4 separate regions of the Homo sapiens genome follow, and all the other regions are reported to be linked to region 1. Evidence: microRNA targets listed by miRTarBase, many of them from high-throughput screens and not tested one by one. Region 1 holds a microRNA gene; each other region holds the end of a gene's coding sequence.
The links. The annotated mature microRNA hsa-miR-6086 reads GGAGGUUGGGAAGGGCAGAG and lies in region 1 at 2,263-2,282, opposite strand. An mRNA with a match to its seed (bases 2 to 7 or 8) in the 3' UTR can be bound and repressed. Matches are read on the target gene's strand: a 7mer-m8 pairs with bases 2 to 8, a 7mer-A1 pairs with bases 2 to 7 and ends in A, and an 8mer does both.

Region 1 (4,221 bases):
ATATTTGGCTACAGTGCTTGTCTTTCATCCACTACTTGTTTCCAAGTGCCTTCAGGACAGGGACTTAAACATTCATCATTGTTTCCCCTGTAGCATTTAATATAGTGTTGTAAACATGTTAAATATTTGAATATTTTTGAATAATGAATAAAGTAATTACTGTAGAACTTTTAATGGGGGAACATTTTATGGCCCTGAACAAATCATAAGGGAAAAATGCTTCCCCAGCAAGGTTTTTCCACTTTTAGAGACAAAAGAGAGAGAATTTAATTTCCAGTGTCTACTTTGTTATGGATATGTACTTGGAGTTGCAACTTTAAATTCAGATGTTAGAAAAATAAATCTTTTTTTTTTTTTTTAAGCCCTGAAGACCTCTAGTTGTTCCCTGGAAACTGATTTCCAATGTGGTCCAGACAGGAAAGCCCAGCATAAATGCCAAATAGAACATAGGAGAAATGGTGAATAATACCCTTGCTATAAGGTTAAAGCTTCAGTAAGATGTTTTCAATTTACAGTAACTTTGGATCTGTGACTTCAACAGCCAATCGACAGCAAGGGAAATTCAGTTTGTGTTTAAAATGGCCTGAGATTGAAGCATGATTTAGACAAAGTAAAAGTCTTATTTGGTTCTCCCCCAAACTTCTCTATCTGAAGCTTTTCATCAGGTACTTGTTTATGGACAATTCTGTATTTCATCTCACTGAAGTGGCATACATTTTAAGGTTAATGATATCGAACTGATGAGACCCTGCCTTGGGAGGAGATTTAGACAGGGTAGAGGCTGAGAGCTAGAAGGCTCCAGGATACATAGAGGCAGGGCTTCAAAAGGAGTGAAGGGCAAATAGATGGACAGAGGGGAAGGCCTGGGTAGACTGTGACCTCACAGCCTGGGGTCTGGCTCTCCTTGTTGGGGCAGGTTGATGTGTATTCTTATTATCATGCATCCCACAACTCTGGCTTAGAAATCAGAAACCCAGCAATCAGGGAATAACTACCCTGTTATTTGGTGCTTCAAGAAACATGACTTTACCATCAAGAAGGACCATGCAAATTGGATAAAACATGATACACATTTTAGATCTAAAAATCATTGCAATTTAAGACCTGAACATTTGACTGGAGCAGTAGGTGTGCTGACCGTCTCTTCAGCTTGCAAAACTTGCATAGTGAGCATTTTGCTTGAACCCCCTGCACTTGCCCTTTTAACACCTTGCCTTCATTTATTCACCAGCGACATGCTGGGTCTCACAAGTTTTATGGCAGTAGACGCTGATGTTCGTGCAACTGTAAGAGAGACTCTAAATCATGTGTTTCACGTGGTTTTTGCCCCTTTCCACCTGACTGACTTCAAATAAAAATGTGTTATGTTGTGTCTAGCAAAAGAATAAAGCCACATTTAATCCCCCCATCACCTGGTGCTTTAATGACGAGAAGTCTGTGATGAGAATTATTGGTCCTTCCTGAAGGAATGGTAATTTATGAGGTATTTTCTATGCATGCCAGGTAATGAACTCACCCTTTAATGCATACATTCCTTACTCTCAGAGGTAGGTATTGCTCTCTCCAGGTTGCAGAGGAGGAAATTGAGCCTTAGCTAGCTTACCTTAGCTAGCTTGCCCAAGGTCACCCACGTCAGTCTGGTTCTCAATGCCCTTGATCATGACACTATCAATCCAATCAGGATGAGGACCCACCCTTTTAATTGACACAAGTCCCAGGAGGATATTCTAACTTCCTTTATCTAAGTGGGCAATGATGATCTTTGTTTTTGTCTAGTATTTTTATGCTCTTGTCATCTTGTCACAAGCAAACTATGATGGCAGAAGGTTTTGCATAATATGGAACATGTGGGAACGATATCAATGTTTTCTATTGTTTTATAGATTTTGGATATTATCAAGTTCTGACCCCACTTATGGTCAATCCAGATATTTTTTAACCAGCCAGAGAGAAGGAGGTTGGGGCAGGAACAGACTAGCAAAAAGAAGGTAGCATTGTTATTCCTAAAAATAGCTAACATGTTAGTGCTTTTATGGGACCTGCAACTGTGTTGTTATCCCATTTAATAGATAAATAACTTAGGATGAGGCACATGCTACCTACTGAAGGACACAGGGACAGTGAGAGTAGACTACTGCCCTGAAGGAATACACCCCTGGTGAGACAGTCAGGAGGAATGTGGATTTGGTTCTGCTACACTGCCAGTGTTGGTCGTTATGGAAAGTCATAAAAAGAAAAACAAGGCAAAAACTTTATGCTCATCTCTGCCCTTCCCAACCTCCTTGAAATGATCAGAGGCCTCTCTCGGAGTTCCTAACACATAGTCTGAGAAACAATGTCCAAGGCAAATTATGGTTCCTTGGTTTGCAATGTACAAAAAAATCAGCAAAATACTTAAAATCTTTGCATATATGCATATGTACCTTGAAAGCATTTAGAAATTGGCAGTATGAATTTTAAAAATGTGAGTTACAAATCTATAAGCTAAAAGGTGTACTTATTTTGTGGCTGAAGCCTACTGGTTGGGTGATTAATAATTAAAGTTTATTGCATTGGAAATCACTTAAATTATAATTAGAGGAGAAATTTACCAGCCTGCTTTTGCCCATCTTAGTTCCTTTAGATTAAAAAGAAAACCAAAAACAAACAACCCAGTCATACTCATTAAGATAATCACAAAAATAATTGACAAGACAGTCTTCTAAAATAAATCATGCCAAGTATGATGGCGTCAGCCACATTTTGTCTGGGAAGAGATCTCATAGGAACCCAGACCTTGGTTATTGGTAGTTATGCATGTCCTTGCCTGAGAGATCCACTGGCAATTTTGTGGCAGTTCATGGTATGACAGATAAAAACCTAAGGGCCCTGATCCAAGTGCAGGGTCTGAGTTTTTACAAAATTACCTTCACAGACTCCCTTGCTGTTTCTTCTCCAGCCGTAGCAGCAGGCCAGTTTAGTTCCATAGTGACAGACCCCAGGCTGACGTGCCGATGCTAACAACCCGTGATGCCTTGCACTGCAGATAAAGAACTACATGTTAGTATTGAGAAAATAGAAAAGACAACAGAAACTCTTCCCTACTACTAAAAGAACCAGAGATGTCAATTACCTGGTTAATTTCAACGAACCCGCAGTAAGTGCTAAATTAGATTTTGAAAACCTGAATTTTGGGGTTGCCAGCCTTCCTCAATAATTAGTTTCAACCATTTCCTTCTTCCCCACGGTTAAAAGAATCTATAAAACTAGGGCACATGAAGATGTCCAAAGTATATGTTTTTGAACCTTGTAGAGTGTCACTTTTCAGATCTGCTCTGTATACGCACAGCAACTATCCAGTTCTTTGTCTATTTCAGTCACTTTCTAATCCTGTGGCTTTGTCCCAGACCAGAGCTCTGCACTTTTATCCCACTGGCACCTGGGAACCATTGAATAGACTGGAATCAACATACACTATAGATGATTAAGAGTTGGAAGGGCTCGTTCAGCAAAGCCCTCTTATGTTACAGAGGAGGAAACTCCAGTCCAATGGAGTGGAGTCACATCCCCAGCAGAGCTGGGTGTTGGGAATTCTAGCCCAGGGCTCGTTCCCATTGACCTCCTGGAAACCCAATTTGCTAAACTGCTTAATTTTAGAGCAGAGATCGGCAAACATTTTCTGTAAAAAGCCAGATGGTAAGTATTTTAGGCTTTGTAGGGCCATAAGATATCTGTCCAAGTACAAAAGCAGCCATAGGCAATAGTAAACAGATGCGCATGACTGTGTTCCAATAAAACTTTATTTATGGACACTGTAATTTGAATAGCATATAATTTTCCTGTGTCATGATATGGTATTCTCCTTTTGCTCCATCTTCTAACATTTAAAAATGTAAAAACTGTTCTTCGCTCATGGGCTGTTTATAAAGAGGGGATCACCTAGCTTTGGCCAGCAGGCTGTAGCTTGCCTGATCTAGATGCCTGAAAAAGGTGAGCCCCCTGTCCCCCACCAAGTGCCCCCAAGTAGTGCCGCCATGGATGAAGCTCACTGCATGTTTACCTACTTACTGTCCTGGTATTGGACAGGGTTGCTACCAGACTTTGAAGGAAAATACTTGCATTGTATGTTTAGTGGAGGGCTGTGATTATTTCCTTACACATATTAAATACACTGTAAAAATGTTTCCTGGGCTCTTTAACAGACAAAGGAATGCACATTTTACCATGTGCTTTCTGCTACAG
Region 2 (4,000 bases), not on the chromosome of region 1:
ATAGGAATCAGACTAGCCACGTGGAAGGTCACATCACATTTCTTTTTTGTCTCCTTACCCCTATAGGGCTTAGGATGAAGATTTTATATATTTAGATACAAATCTCAGCCAAGCATGGTGGCTCATGCCTATAATCCCGGCACTTTGGGTGGCTGTCGGGGGCGGATTGCTTGAGTCCAGGAGTTAAAGACCAGCCTGGCCAACATAGCAAAACTCTGTCTCTAAAAAAAAAAAAATTAGCCAGGCGTGGTAGCACACGCCTATAGTCCCAGCTACTCGGGAGGCTAAGGTGGAAGGATCACCTCAGCCTGGGAGGTTGAGGCTAGAGTGAGCCATGATCATGCCACTGCACTCCAGCTTGAATGACAGAGTGAGACCCTGTTTCAAAAAAAAAAATTAGCTGTGCGTGGTGGCGCGTACCTAGTAGTCCCAACTACTGAGCTGTGGTTGCACCACTGCACTCCAGCCTAGACAACAAAGTGAGACCCTATCTTTAAAAAATAATAATAATTATTATATACAATATATAACTATATAATATATAATTATGTTATATATTATATGTATATTATATATAATATATAATTATGTTATATATTATATGTATATTATATATAATATATAATTATGTTATATATTATATGTATATTATATATAATATATAATTATGTTACATATTATATGTATATTATATATAATATATAATTATGTTATATATTATATGTATATTATATATAATATATAATTGTTATATATTATATGTATATTATATATAATATATAATTATACATTATATATTATATAATTATTAGATACAAATCTTACACAAGGTCCTAGGCAGCTTTAGCCCCTGCCAGTCTCAATATTCAAACAGTCATATGTGAGGGCATAAAAATGCACAAGGACACAGACACACATACAAGAAATGTACAACCAGTGTTCGCTTCCTAACCTAAATCCCAAAGAATTTTAACTATAATGGTCCCAATTCCAAACAATCTATGTATCTTCCATCCCCACCAGAAACCAAGAAGTTAACTTCCCTCACCTGTCAGGAACACCAGGGGCAAGAACAGGTGAGTGACGAAGGGGAGTTCCATGCCTGATCGGTTTCTGTCCAGTATGAGAAGTCCTCTGGCCTCTGTCCCTCTCCTTTTCTGTTTTCTTCACTTTCCCTCCCATCCTGCCCCCTCCCAATGGCAGCTAAAAATAAAGTTGGAAGGAATGGGAGGAGTGATGGTGGGGAACTGTGGGGAGCCCCAGACCAAGGAAAACACTGAGCGATCTTAGTCTATTTCTCTGCCTTGGTGCTGCCCCCTGGAGGCCTCATCTCTATATCCAGAGAACATATTTTTTTGCCCATTTCTGCTATTTCTTTTTTTCTACTGTTTATTGTTGCCAGGTCAATAATGCTTTCCTCAAATTTGGAACAGGAGTGGGAGATGGATTCTTTTTTATAAGAAAAGAATCTTAAACTTTTGTTTAAAAGTTTTAGACAAATTATTTATATTGAGAATACAGACAGGGTTTCACTATGTTACCCAGGCTGGTCTTGAACTCCTGAACTCAAGGAATCCTCCCACCTCAGCCTCCCAAAGTGAGCCACTGCACCCAGCTGGGAGATAGGAGATAGATTCAGATTTTTTTTTTTCTTTTTTAAGGCAGAGTCTCACTCTGTCACCCAGGCTGGAGTGCAGTGGCACAATCTTGGCTCACTGCAACCTCTGTCTCCCACGTTCAAGCATTTCTCATGCCTCAGCCTCCCAGGTAGCTGGGACTACAGGCACATGCCACCATGCCTGGCTAATTTTTTATTTTTAGTAGAGGCAGGGTTTCACCATGTTGGCCAGGCTGGTCTTGAACTCCTGACCTTAAGAGATCCACCTGCCTCGGCCTCCCAAAGTGCTGGGATTACCGGCGTGAGCCACCACGCCTGGCCGATAGATTCACTTCCTAACCTTATTTATCTCAACCTGGAATATGGAAAATGAAAGAGCTGATAGCAGTGGTATCATTTCCCTACCCACCCAGGGGAGTCTCAACTTGTGAAGACACAGCTCCAAATCCTTACCAGCCCCACTCCACTTGGTTCTGTCCTTGGCTCTTAGCCTATGCTGTCATATGGCATTCTGCTTCTTAGAGGGATTATATCTGAACTGGTATGAGATGTGCTTTGTGGAGCCAGGACAATAACTTTAGTATTAGACCACTCCTCTGCCACCCCAACTCCTCAGCTAGGTTATAAACTTCTTAAAGTTGGGAGTGTGGAGCTTCTTAGATTTTTGGATGCCCACTAAGTATGTTGCTTTACATACTGTAGGTGCTCAAGAAAAATAATGTGGGTGATGTTAGTGGCTAATCCCGAGAAAAACCCAAACCACAGTGACAGGAATAGGGGCCTCAAATTACCAAAAAATGAGGGACCAGACCAAATGTCGATGAGCAAACTGAACTTTAATTTGCTTACCTGAAAGGCTTGCTCTTCATTATTGGCATAGGCCACAGCTATTTACACAGAATCATTGTACAGGATTTACAGCAAGATGCTACACATAGCATCATTCTGGATAAGCGACAAAGGAGTAAGAACAGACTGGGGAATAAAGCTCTGAAATCAAAGTGTAAGCAGAAATCTGAAGGTAGGTGTACAAGGAAGGATAAGGGCCAAATGATGAGCGAGGTTGGTGAGGTAGACATAAGGGAGGAAGAGGAAACATCCAACAACTTGTGGTGCAGAGATATAAGGGAAGAGTCCACTGGCACATAGTCTTAAAAATTATGTTTGGAGTTTGAAGGAGGAAAAATCTGCCATAAGCCACCTCTGTGAGAAAAAAGAAGGCAGTTAGAACCTTACAGGCCAAACCTTATACCTCCCCTATCAAAAAGTAATTCTGCTGATTAAATCCCTGGATAGGAGAATGAGAAGGTTGAAAAAAGAAAGAGAGAGATGCATAGACACAGAACCTTAAACAGAGTTAAGAGACACAAAGTAAATATATTCAAGAGAGACACAAAGAAAGAGGAAAAGAACAGAAGCTCAGGCACATCTAGAAATTAGAGACATCCTATTAACTTCACGAGTCATCTTTCCTTACCTCATCTTCCCCAAAGCTCTTCCTCCACCCCTAAATCTCTGAATTTCTAACTTTAACCAAAGAGTAGAATTCGAATGAGGCTGGCACATGGGGGACGATCTAAGATTCCATCTCACCAATTCAGGTCCCCTCCTTATCCTGTACCGGAAGGTCAGGGCTTGAGTCGTAGCCAGGGATAGATTAGGGTGAGAATAGACAGGATGGAGGACACGAGGCCACAAAGCCCCACAATCCCAGGGCCACAGCGCCAGAGGCCTAGTTTGTCCAGAGGAATGAAGAGATCACAGGCATTTCTGACCACGTCTAGCAGAAGTGGGGGATGACCTCTAAGGACTCGAGCCAGGAGCAGGACTTGCAGCCGAAGTTTCAGAGCCAGTTGGGGCAGACCTCCTCCTGGAGTCCCTGGTCCCCCAAGTCCCCCAGTTTCACTTCCTCCTGGGACTCCTCCTCCAGAACCTTTCAGTCGCCGGCTACAAGCAGAAGACTCTTGCTCCATCAGTAGGCGAATCTCATAAGCATCACGGCTCAAATTCATGATGAGGGAAAACAAATAGTACCTGATACACAGAGCAAAAGGGTCAGTAAGGGCATGTATACCTACTTAACATATCCAACATCACATTTTAACATTTTCTTTTCCTGTAGCAAAGAGATTACACATTAGATCAGAAGTAAAGTGAATGCTATTACCCCTATTAGAAATGTCCTCCATCGAGGACACTATGCTAAGCAAAATAAGCCAGACACAGAAAGACAAATACTGCATAATCTCACTTATAGGTGGAAGCTAAAATAAGGCCGGGCGTGGTGGCTCATGCCTGTAATCCCAGCACTTTGGGAGGCCAAGGCAGGTGGATCACCTGAGGTCAGGAGTTTAAGACCAGCCTGGCCAACATGGTGAAACC
Region 3 (4,221 bases), not on the chromosome of region 1:
CTTAAACACCGGGCCCCATCTGGAGGCCAAGTGGCCTTGGGCAAGTCAGCCCCTGCCTGGGCCGCAATTCCCTCCTCTGACATCTCTGGCCTAGACTCGGCGTGAAGGTCACACGACTGTGGCAGGCCATGTGTCCAGACGCCTCAGTTGCTCAGCTCTGGGCCCGCAGATGAGGCCATGGGACACCCTCAAAGCCGGCACACACCCAAGGGTTCACCCTAGATCTACATCCCAGGCAAGCGGCAAACCAACAGGCAGGCACAGTGGATGAGCCCATTTGCAACTGCAGCAACACTAAGGACCAGTGCGGACAGTCTACACTGGCTGCGACGAGTACAAGCTCTCAGGCCAGGTGGAAATGGAATTGAGAAACCTAGGCGCTGCCCATCAGACCACAGGCACCGAACAGCAGATCTGTTCACTGGGATGGCAACACGTTTATCAGCTCAGACGTGTTCCGGTCCCCTGCAGTACATGGCAGCACCAGAGCACACATGGCCATGTTCCTACATGGTGGTGCCAGCACGGGATGCCACCCAGGGCTCATCTCGTCCTCCTCCTCCTCCTCCTCCTCACACCAGGACCAGCCTGGCTCACTAGTGGGCATGGGCCGGGCACACCATCCCCCCAGGTCAGCCTGGATCACCAGCGGGCACGGGCCGGGCACACCATCCCCCCAACCAGCGTGCTGCCTCATGCCAGGACCAGCCTGGCTCACCAGCAGGCACGGGCCAGGCACACCATCCCTCCCGACCAGTGTGCTGCCTCCACATCTAGGCGCCTTGGCCTGACGGCTAATACCGTTCCGGTTACAATGAAGGAAATCTCGCCACTTTTCTCCTGTGCAGAAGAAAATGCACACAGTCCCCATGGCTATAACCCACCAGCAGGCACGGGGGACCTCTGGTGTCTCATGTTGGTGCCCAGTGCCTCAGCCTGGCCTCCCCACGCGACCTGCAGGGGCGGCTTCACGGCAGGCCAGCTGTGGTGCCCTGCGCAGTGGTTACTGCAGGAGGTGATCTCTTCACTGTAGCTGGACAAGGGTGGCCCTCTACCGACTTCTGGTGTTCTAGGCCTGGTGAGCAGCTTCCTGGAGGGAGACAGAGGACTCTCCTGACTCCACACCAGGTGGTGGCTCAGAAAGCACAGGGCGAGGCCACCTGGCGTGGCCGCAGTGAGGACGGCAACACACCACAAGATGTGGCCCTGCTGGGGCAGCAGGTGGCTCGGCTCACTCAACCATTCACTCAGACACGCTGCAACTGTTTATTCCAGAATCAGAGGTTGGAAACCCAACTGTATATAGACTGAAAGCAAAACAAATACACAACTGAACACAATATATGCAGTTATCCAGCAAGACAGGCAACGCAACACAATATATGCAGTTATTGACAAGACAGGTGCACAGGCACAGCACACAGAGTGAGATGAAGGCAGCCTAGCGAGCAGAGGCTCTGCAGCACGGAGGGCTGGGAAGGCCATCGCTCGAGTTAATCCAATCCCAGTGCTTCAGGACACCTTGGGCCACGTTGACATCTCTCTTTTCCTGGGAGGAGCCCTAGGGTACAGCTGCATGGTTCCATGGAGTTTCAGGCGTCTGCCAGCTCTGTTTCACTGTTTGTGGTTAAACTGCTTTCTCCTTTTTAAAAAAAAATTTTTTGCCAGGTGCAGTGGCTCACGCCTGTAATCCCAGCATTTTGGGAGGCTGAGGTGGTTGGATCACCTGAGGTCAGAAATTCCAGCCTGACCGGCCCGATCAACATGGCGAAACCCGTCTCAACTAAGAATACAATTAGCCAGGCGCGGTGGCGCGCGCCTGTAATCCCAGCTACTCCAGAGGCTGAGGCAGGAGAATCGCTTGAACCCAGGAGGCGGAGGTTGCTGTGAGCCGAGATCACGCCACTGAACTCCAGCCTGGGTGACAAAGTGAGACTCTGTCTCAAAAAAAAAAAAAAAATTTGTAGAGACAGAGTCTCCCATGTAGAAACTCCTGGACTCCAGCAATCCTCCCACCTTGGCCTCCCAGTGTGCTGGGATTATAGGGCACGAGCCACCGTGCCTGGCCTCTCCTTTCTTTTTAAGGCAAGCTCATGCCCACAGTGCAGTGCCAGAATGGAGGGGGCTCCATCACCCTGAGCACAGAGGGCTTCATGGCGAGTGGATGGGCCAGGGCCGTGTGAGAAGAAACCTGTCTGCCAAGGGTGACAGGGAAGTCTTCTGCGGGAGGCTGGACCACCTGAATATCCTCAACCCCTCAGGGTCAGACGGAACCTTTACCCCCGACTCCCACCCCACGACAGTGCTGATGATGAGCTGGGGCCCCCTGCACCCACCCAGCTGGTGCGGGCAGCCTTCTCAATTTTCCATTCTCGTGTCTGTCACCCTTGCCCCAGTGCGAGTCCGACTGAAAGACTGAATGTACAAGTTTGAGTTGGGGCCTGGGTTGCCAGGCCTCCAGGGCCCTGAGTATGGTCCAGGAGGGTGGTGACTGGCTGTGAGGAATGGCCCAGGGCCGAGTGTGGTCCAGGAGGGTGGTGACTGGCTGTGAGGAATGGGAGGAGGGTGGTGACTGGCTGTGAGGAATGGCCCAGGGCCGAGTATGGTCCAGGAGGGTGGTGACTGGCTGTGAGGAATGGGAGGAGGGTGGTGACTGGCTGTGAGGAATGGGGCCTACTGTTGTCAGAAACTACAGTTTTTCTAAGAAAAGCTGAAAATCCAGATTTGTACGTAAGTCTCCTGATTCTAAAAGGCTGACAGTTATTAATGTTCTGGCAAAAACATTTTCAAGGAAAATATGAGTGGGTAAAAGAAAGAGCCAAAATGGGCAGGGATCTGGGACTGTGGACTGCCTGCCCTAACAACCCCAGGGCCACAGGAGTCCACAGGCACAGCCACCCCACCCTCTGCCCTCACTCCCACATCAAATCACCTTCAAGTCATGTGCATTAGAACCTCTGGGGGTCCTAGCTCTTCACAGGACACTTTCTGGATTTTTCTTTTTAAACCTAAAATACAGTAGTCTGTCTCCATTCCCACTCTTTGGGACTTTTTCACAATCTTAGGATGAAGGGATAAATTGGGGAAGTGCTCCTCTCATGTTAAAACGTTCCAATCTGCCAGGCACGGTGGCTCATGCCTGCAGTCCTGGCACTTTGGGAGGCCAAGGCGGGTGGATCAGGAGGTCAGGAATTCAATACCAGCCTGGCCAACATAGTGAAACCCCATCTCTACTAAAAATACAAAAATTAGCTGGGCATGGTGGTGTGCGCGTTAGTCCCAGCTACTCGGGAGGCTGGGGCAAGAGAATCGCTTGAACCCGGGAGGCAGAGGTTGCAGTGAGCTGAGATTGCGCCATTGCACTCCAGCCTGGGTGACAGAGTGAGACTCCGTCTCAAAAAAAAAAAAAGAAAAAAAAAGTTCCAATCCCACACCTATTATGAAGATAGCACCACATGAAACTGCCTGAGGGGCCTCCAATAAACGGGGTAGCAGGGAACTCGGAGAAACCAAAGTAATCCATTGAGCGGTTTTCTTAAGTGTCTTTAATACTCCACTCAGGGCAGCCCCTCCCTCTACTGAGAGGCTCTTGGCTCTGGCCCCAAGAGCAGCTGGAAGGCCCTGGCCTGACTTCACCACTTGATGTCCAGGCTGTGTGTGCCACGCTCCTGGCTCTGGTACGTGGTATGCAGCACCTCTCGGGCCTTGGGGGAGTTGATCCCCTCCAGCCACTCCTGGTACAGCTCCTGCACGTGTGCACTGGACTCCGGACGCCGCACAGGGATGTCAGCGTAAATGCCTTCCATCTGCCGCAGCAGGGCCTTATCCGCATGTCCGTCTGGAGTCTGGGCTTGGCCTCTGCCATTTAAGCATCCTGAAAGATAAACACAGGTAAGTTTATCCTGGGCTCAGGCGATCTTTCTGCCTTAGCTTCCTGAGCAGCTAGAACTACAGACACACACCACCTTGCCCGGCTGATTTTTAAATTTTTTGTAGAGATTGGGCGGGAGGGGCGGGTGTTGCTATGTTGCTCAGGCTGGTCTTGAACTCCTGGCTTCAAGCGGCAATCCTACTTCGAGCTGGGACCACTGGCGTGAGCCACCGCACCCAGCCGGGATAGTCTTAAGGAAGTTTTGCCTCACAGGGAAGAGTTGGAAGCAGGAGAGGAATAAAGGGGACGTGGAATGTTGTGTGGCCTAAGGCTAGGGCTGGCTGAACAGG
Region 4 (4,221 bases), not on the chromosome of region 1:
CCACGGGTTCTTTTTGTCTTTGACCATAGGCCAGTGTCTGCTCCACTCTGGGCCTTGATTTCTCAATGTGAAGGTGATTCTACCCCAGCTCATAGAATTTTGGCTAAATCTAGGCTGGGCACGGTGGCTCATGGCTGTAATCCCAGCAGTTTGGGAGATCGAGGCAGGTGGATCACTTGAAGTCAGGAGTTAAGAGACCAGCCTGGCCTACCTGGTGAAACCCCGTCTCTACTAAAAATACAAAAATTAGTTGGGCATGGTGGAGGTTGCAGTGAGCCGAGATCACGCCACTGCACTCCAGCCTGGGCAACAGAGTGAGACTCCATCTCAAAAAGAAAATAATTTTGGCTAAATCTAGATGACATGATGCATATAAAGTTCCTAGTGCAGTGCTTTGAACCTAGCAAGGATTTCAGAAATAGTGACCCCTCTCCCTCAGTCATCTCTTTTCCTCTCTTCCACTGAATGGGCTTCCTGAGTTTCTTCTTCGTCCTCCCCCCTAGGTTGGCTTCTTCAAGCGTCAGTACAAGGAAATGATGGAGGAGGCAAATGGACAAATTGCCCCAGAAAACGGGACACAGACCCCCAGCCCGCCCAGTGAGAAATGATCCCCTCTTTGCCTTGGACTTCTTCTCCCCCGCGAGTTTTCCCCACTTACTTACCCTCACCTGTCAGGCCTGACGGGGAGGAACCACTGCACCACCGAGAGAGGCTGGGATGGGCCTGCTTCCTGTCTTTGGGAGAAAACGTCTTGCTTGGGAAGGGGCCTTTGTCTTGTCAAGGTTCCAACTGGAAACCCTTAGGACAGGGTCCCTGCTGTGTTCCCCAAAGGACTTGACTTGCAATTTCTACCTAGAAATACATGGACAATACCCCCAGGCCTCAGTCTCCCTTCTCCCATGAGGCACGAATGATCTTTCTTTCCTTTCTTTTTTTTTTTTTTTCTTTTCTTTTTTTTTTTTTTGAGACGGAGTCTCGCTCTGTCACCCAGGCTGGAGTGCAATGGCGTGATCTCGGCTCACTGCAACCTCCGCCTCCCGGGTTCAAGTAATTCTGCTGTCTCAGCCTCCTGAGTAGCTGGGACTACAGGCACACGCCACCTCGCCCGGCCCGATCTTTCTAAAATACAGTTCTGAATATGCTGCTCATCCCCACCTGTCTTCAACAGCTCCCCATTACCCTCAGGACAATGTCTGAACTCTCCAGCTTCGCGTGAGAAGTCCCCTTCCATCCCAGAGGGTGGGCTTCAGGGCGCACAGCATGAGAGGCTCTGTGCCCCCATCACCCTCGTTTCCAGTGAATTAGTGTCATGTCAGCATCAGCTCAGGGCTTCATCGTGGGGCTCTCAGTTCCGATTTCCCAGGCTGAATTGGGAGTGAGATGCCTGCATGCTGGGTTCTGCACAGCTGGCCTCCCGCGTTGGGCAACATTGCTGGCTGGAAGGGAGGAGCGCCCTCTAGGGAGGGACATGGCCCCGGTGCGGCTGCAGCTCACCCAGCCCCAGGGGCAGAAGAGACCCAACCACTTCTATTTTTTGAGGCTATGAATATAGTACCTGAAAAAATGCCAAGACATGATTATTTTTTTAAAAAGCGTACTTTAAATGTTTGTGTTAATAAATTAAAACATGCACAAAAAGATGCATCTACCGCTCTTGGGAAATATGTCAAAGGTCTAAAAATAAAAAAGCCTTCTGTGGATATGAGTCCTGAAGGATGACACCCATGGGGTCCCTTTACCACGGTGGACCCTGGCCAGCACTGAGGCCTGGGGCCAGGACAAGAAGTTAACCAGAGTAGGGTTGTGAATATCCCTCTCTTGGAAGTAACCTGACCTCTTAATCTGCTCACTCCACTCTCAGGGCTGGTGCCGATGGTAAGCTGGTGGAGCTGTCGGGTGGAGGGGGCATAGAATAGAGAAGGGACAACCTCCAGTGGCTACTTTTCCACCTGGAAAGGTCTCTGGAGTGACCAATACTCACAAGCGTTTCCTACAAGTCCTAGGATGTGTTGAAGGGCACACTGTCTGCATATAGTGAGTGATTGAAGAACATGTTGGGGTCCCACATTGAGAGCTGCTGCCCACAATAAGGTCATTCTTGCTATTATGCCACCATCCTGGCATAAAGTTCATCATGGTGCTTGGCACTGAGCTGGGGGCCTCACAGGACAAGCCATTCCTGACCTCGGAGTGACGCCACTGCAGCTATCACCAGCAAGGGACCCGGGCCGTGTGGATGTTTCAATTAGAAAAACAGAAGGGAGGCAGTTGAGTGATTTGAAGGGAAGATGGAAAGTGGCCCTTTACCTCCAGCCAAAAATGTCTGTCCTATACATCAGCAGAGGCTCCAAAATCCCTGTGGATTTTGAAGCTTTTGAGTCCCCAGGATGACTAATTATTATGCAGTTTCCTCAGAAAGGGAATCAGAAGATAAGGCTTTGTAAGAATTCAGCCCTAATGGCTGGGCACAGTGGCTCATGCCTGTAATCCCAGCACTTTGGGAGGCCGAGGCAGGAGGATTGTTTGTGCTCAGAAATTTGAGACCACCCTGGGTAATATATTGAAACCTTGTGTCTACAAAAAAATTTAAAAATTACCCAGGCATGGTGGCATGTGCTTGTAGTCCCAGCTACTTGGTAGGCTGAAGCAGGAGGATCACTTGAGCCTGGGAGGTTGAGGATACAGTGAGCTGTGATTTGGACCACCACACTCCAGCCTGGGCAACAGAGAAAGATCATGTCTCAGAAAAAAAAAAAAAAATTGACCCTAGAGTGGTGTTTCTCAAAATGTGTTCCACGAACCACTGGTGGTCAATGATGGTCTTCTAAGTGGAAGGTTTTAGAGAAAAAGAGCAAGAAACCCATACATCTCAAACATTTGAAACTAGTGATTTGCACAGAAATAGTGTTGTGGCCTTAATAATTGTGTGGCACACGGACTCCAGGGACTACAGTGGGTTCTTGTCTAAATTCAGGCAACAAGTTGTTATTTTCTATTTTATTTTATTATTATTATTTTTTGAGATAGTCTCACTTTGTCTCCCGGGCTGGAGTGTAGTGGCACGATCTCGGCTCAACGCAACCTCTGTCTCCTGGGTTCAAGTGATGCCTCTGCCTCAGCCTCCCAAGTAGCTGGGAGTACAGGGGCGTACCACCATGCCCATTTTTATTTATTTATTTTTGAGACAGAGTCTCGCTCTGTCACCCAGGCTGGAGTGCAGTGGCATGATCTTGGCTCACTGCAACCTCCGCCTCCCAGGTTCAAGTTCAAGCGATTCTCCTGCCTCAGCCTCTGGAGTAGCTGGGATTACAGGCAGGCACCACCATTTCCAGCTAATTTTTGTATTTTTAGTATAGATGGGGTTTCACCATGTTGACTAGGCTGGTCTCGAACTCCTGACCTCATGATCCGCCCTCCTCGGCCTCCGAAAGTGCTGGGATTAGAGGTATGAGCCACTGTACTTGGCCGACAAGGTGTTATTTTCTGATATTCTTCCTTTGTGTGTTATTGTGTACATTTATTACATTTGCATTTTCAGGGTTGGCTATTGTGTTGCATTAGATCCCCGAATCACAAAATGGATCAATGGCTCAAAAGCATGGAAGTTGTGATTAAAAACTAATCTAATTGCTACAATTTACAATAATGTCATCAAAGTCAATATTGACTTTTAAATATTGAGCCCAGTGCACGTATAGTATAGACATGCATACCGGAATAAGTGATTGTGAGCCAAAACCCGAAAATATCTAGAAGGTATTATACTCCCTGACAGGTAGGTTGTATTGGTTCTGACATGTATTTGTCCCTAGTGTGCTGCCCATTCTGAAACTTTATCAAACAGTCGCATGAACCTCTGAAAGCTTTTGTGTTATTTTCTTATTTATTTATTTATTGAGATGGAGTCTTGCTCTGTCGCCCAGGCTGGAGTGCAGTGGCATCATCTTGGCTCACTGCAACCTTTGCCTCCTGGGTTCAAGTGATTCTCCTGCCTCAGCCTCTTGAGTAGCTGGGATTACAGGCGCGCACCACCACGCCCAGCTAATTTTTGTATTTTTAGTATAGACGGGGGTTTCACCATGTTGGTCAGGCTGGTCTCGAACCCCTGACCTCATGATCTGCCTGCCTCAGGTAAAGCAATAGAGATTTCTTAGAACAACTGCTACATGTAGCTTTCCTATTCAAAAGTGATTAGTGTTGTCACCGAATACAGAGGAGACA

Region 2: the mRNA of PEX11B is a reported target of hsa-miR-6086. Seed matches in the 3' UTR shown: 7mer-m8 at 2,678-2,684.
Region 3: miRTarBase lists NARF as a target of hsa-miR-6086. Seed matches in the 3' UTR shown: 7mer-m8 at 3,330-3,336, 7mer-m8 at 1,878-1,884 and 7mer-m8 at 1,281-1,287.
Region 4: the mRNA of ITGAX is a reported target of hsa-miR-6086. Seed matches in the 3' UTR shown: 7mer-m8 at 1,025-1,031.

What each region holds. Positions count from the first base shown.
Region 1 is chrX:13,588,354-13,592,574 of GRCh38, reverse strand. It overlaps MIR6086 (microRNA 6086), which reads right to left and starts at 2,283; the gene lies at 2,229-2,283. EGFL6 (EGF like domain multiple 6) reads right to left here. Exons shown (of 12, transcript NM_015507.4): 2 at 2,907-3,019.
Region 2 is chr1:145,908,915-145,912,914 of GRCh38, forward strand. It overlaps PEX11B (peroxisomal biogenesis factor 11 beta), which reads right to left. Exons shown (of 4, transcript NM_003846.3): 4 at 2,436-3,652. The coding sequence ends at 3,247. ITGA10 (integrin subunit alpha 10) reads right to left here and starts at 1,136. Exons shown (of 30, transcript NM_003637.5): 1 at 1,049-1,136. The coding sequence starts at 1,100.
Region 3 is chr17:82,487,569-82,491,789 of GRCh38, reverse strand. It overlaps NARF (nuclear prelamin A recognition factor), which reads right to left. Exons shown (of 11, transcript NM_012336.4): 11 at 1,253-3,874. The coding sequence ends at 3,633. Among named protein-coding and RNA genes, the nearest start is that of TRX-CAT1-8, 5.1 kb to the left of the region's middle. RefSeq lists an enhancer at 939-1,138.
Region 4 is chr16:31,381,300-31,385,520 of GRCh38, forward strand. ITGAX (integrin subunit alpha X) reads left to right here. Exons shown (of 30, transcript NM_000887.5): 30 at 504-1,700. The coding sequence ends at 608. Among named protein-coding and RNA genes, the nearest start is that of ITGAD, 9.9 kb to the right of the region's middle. RefSeq lists enhancers at 808-1,308, 1,309-1,809.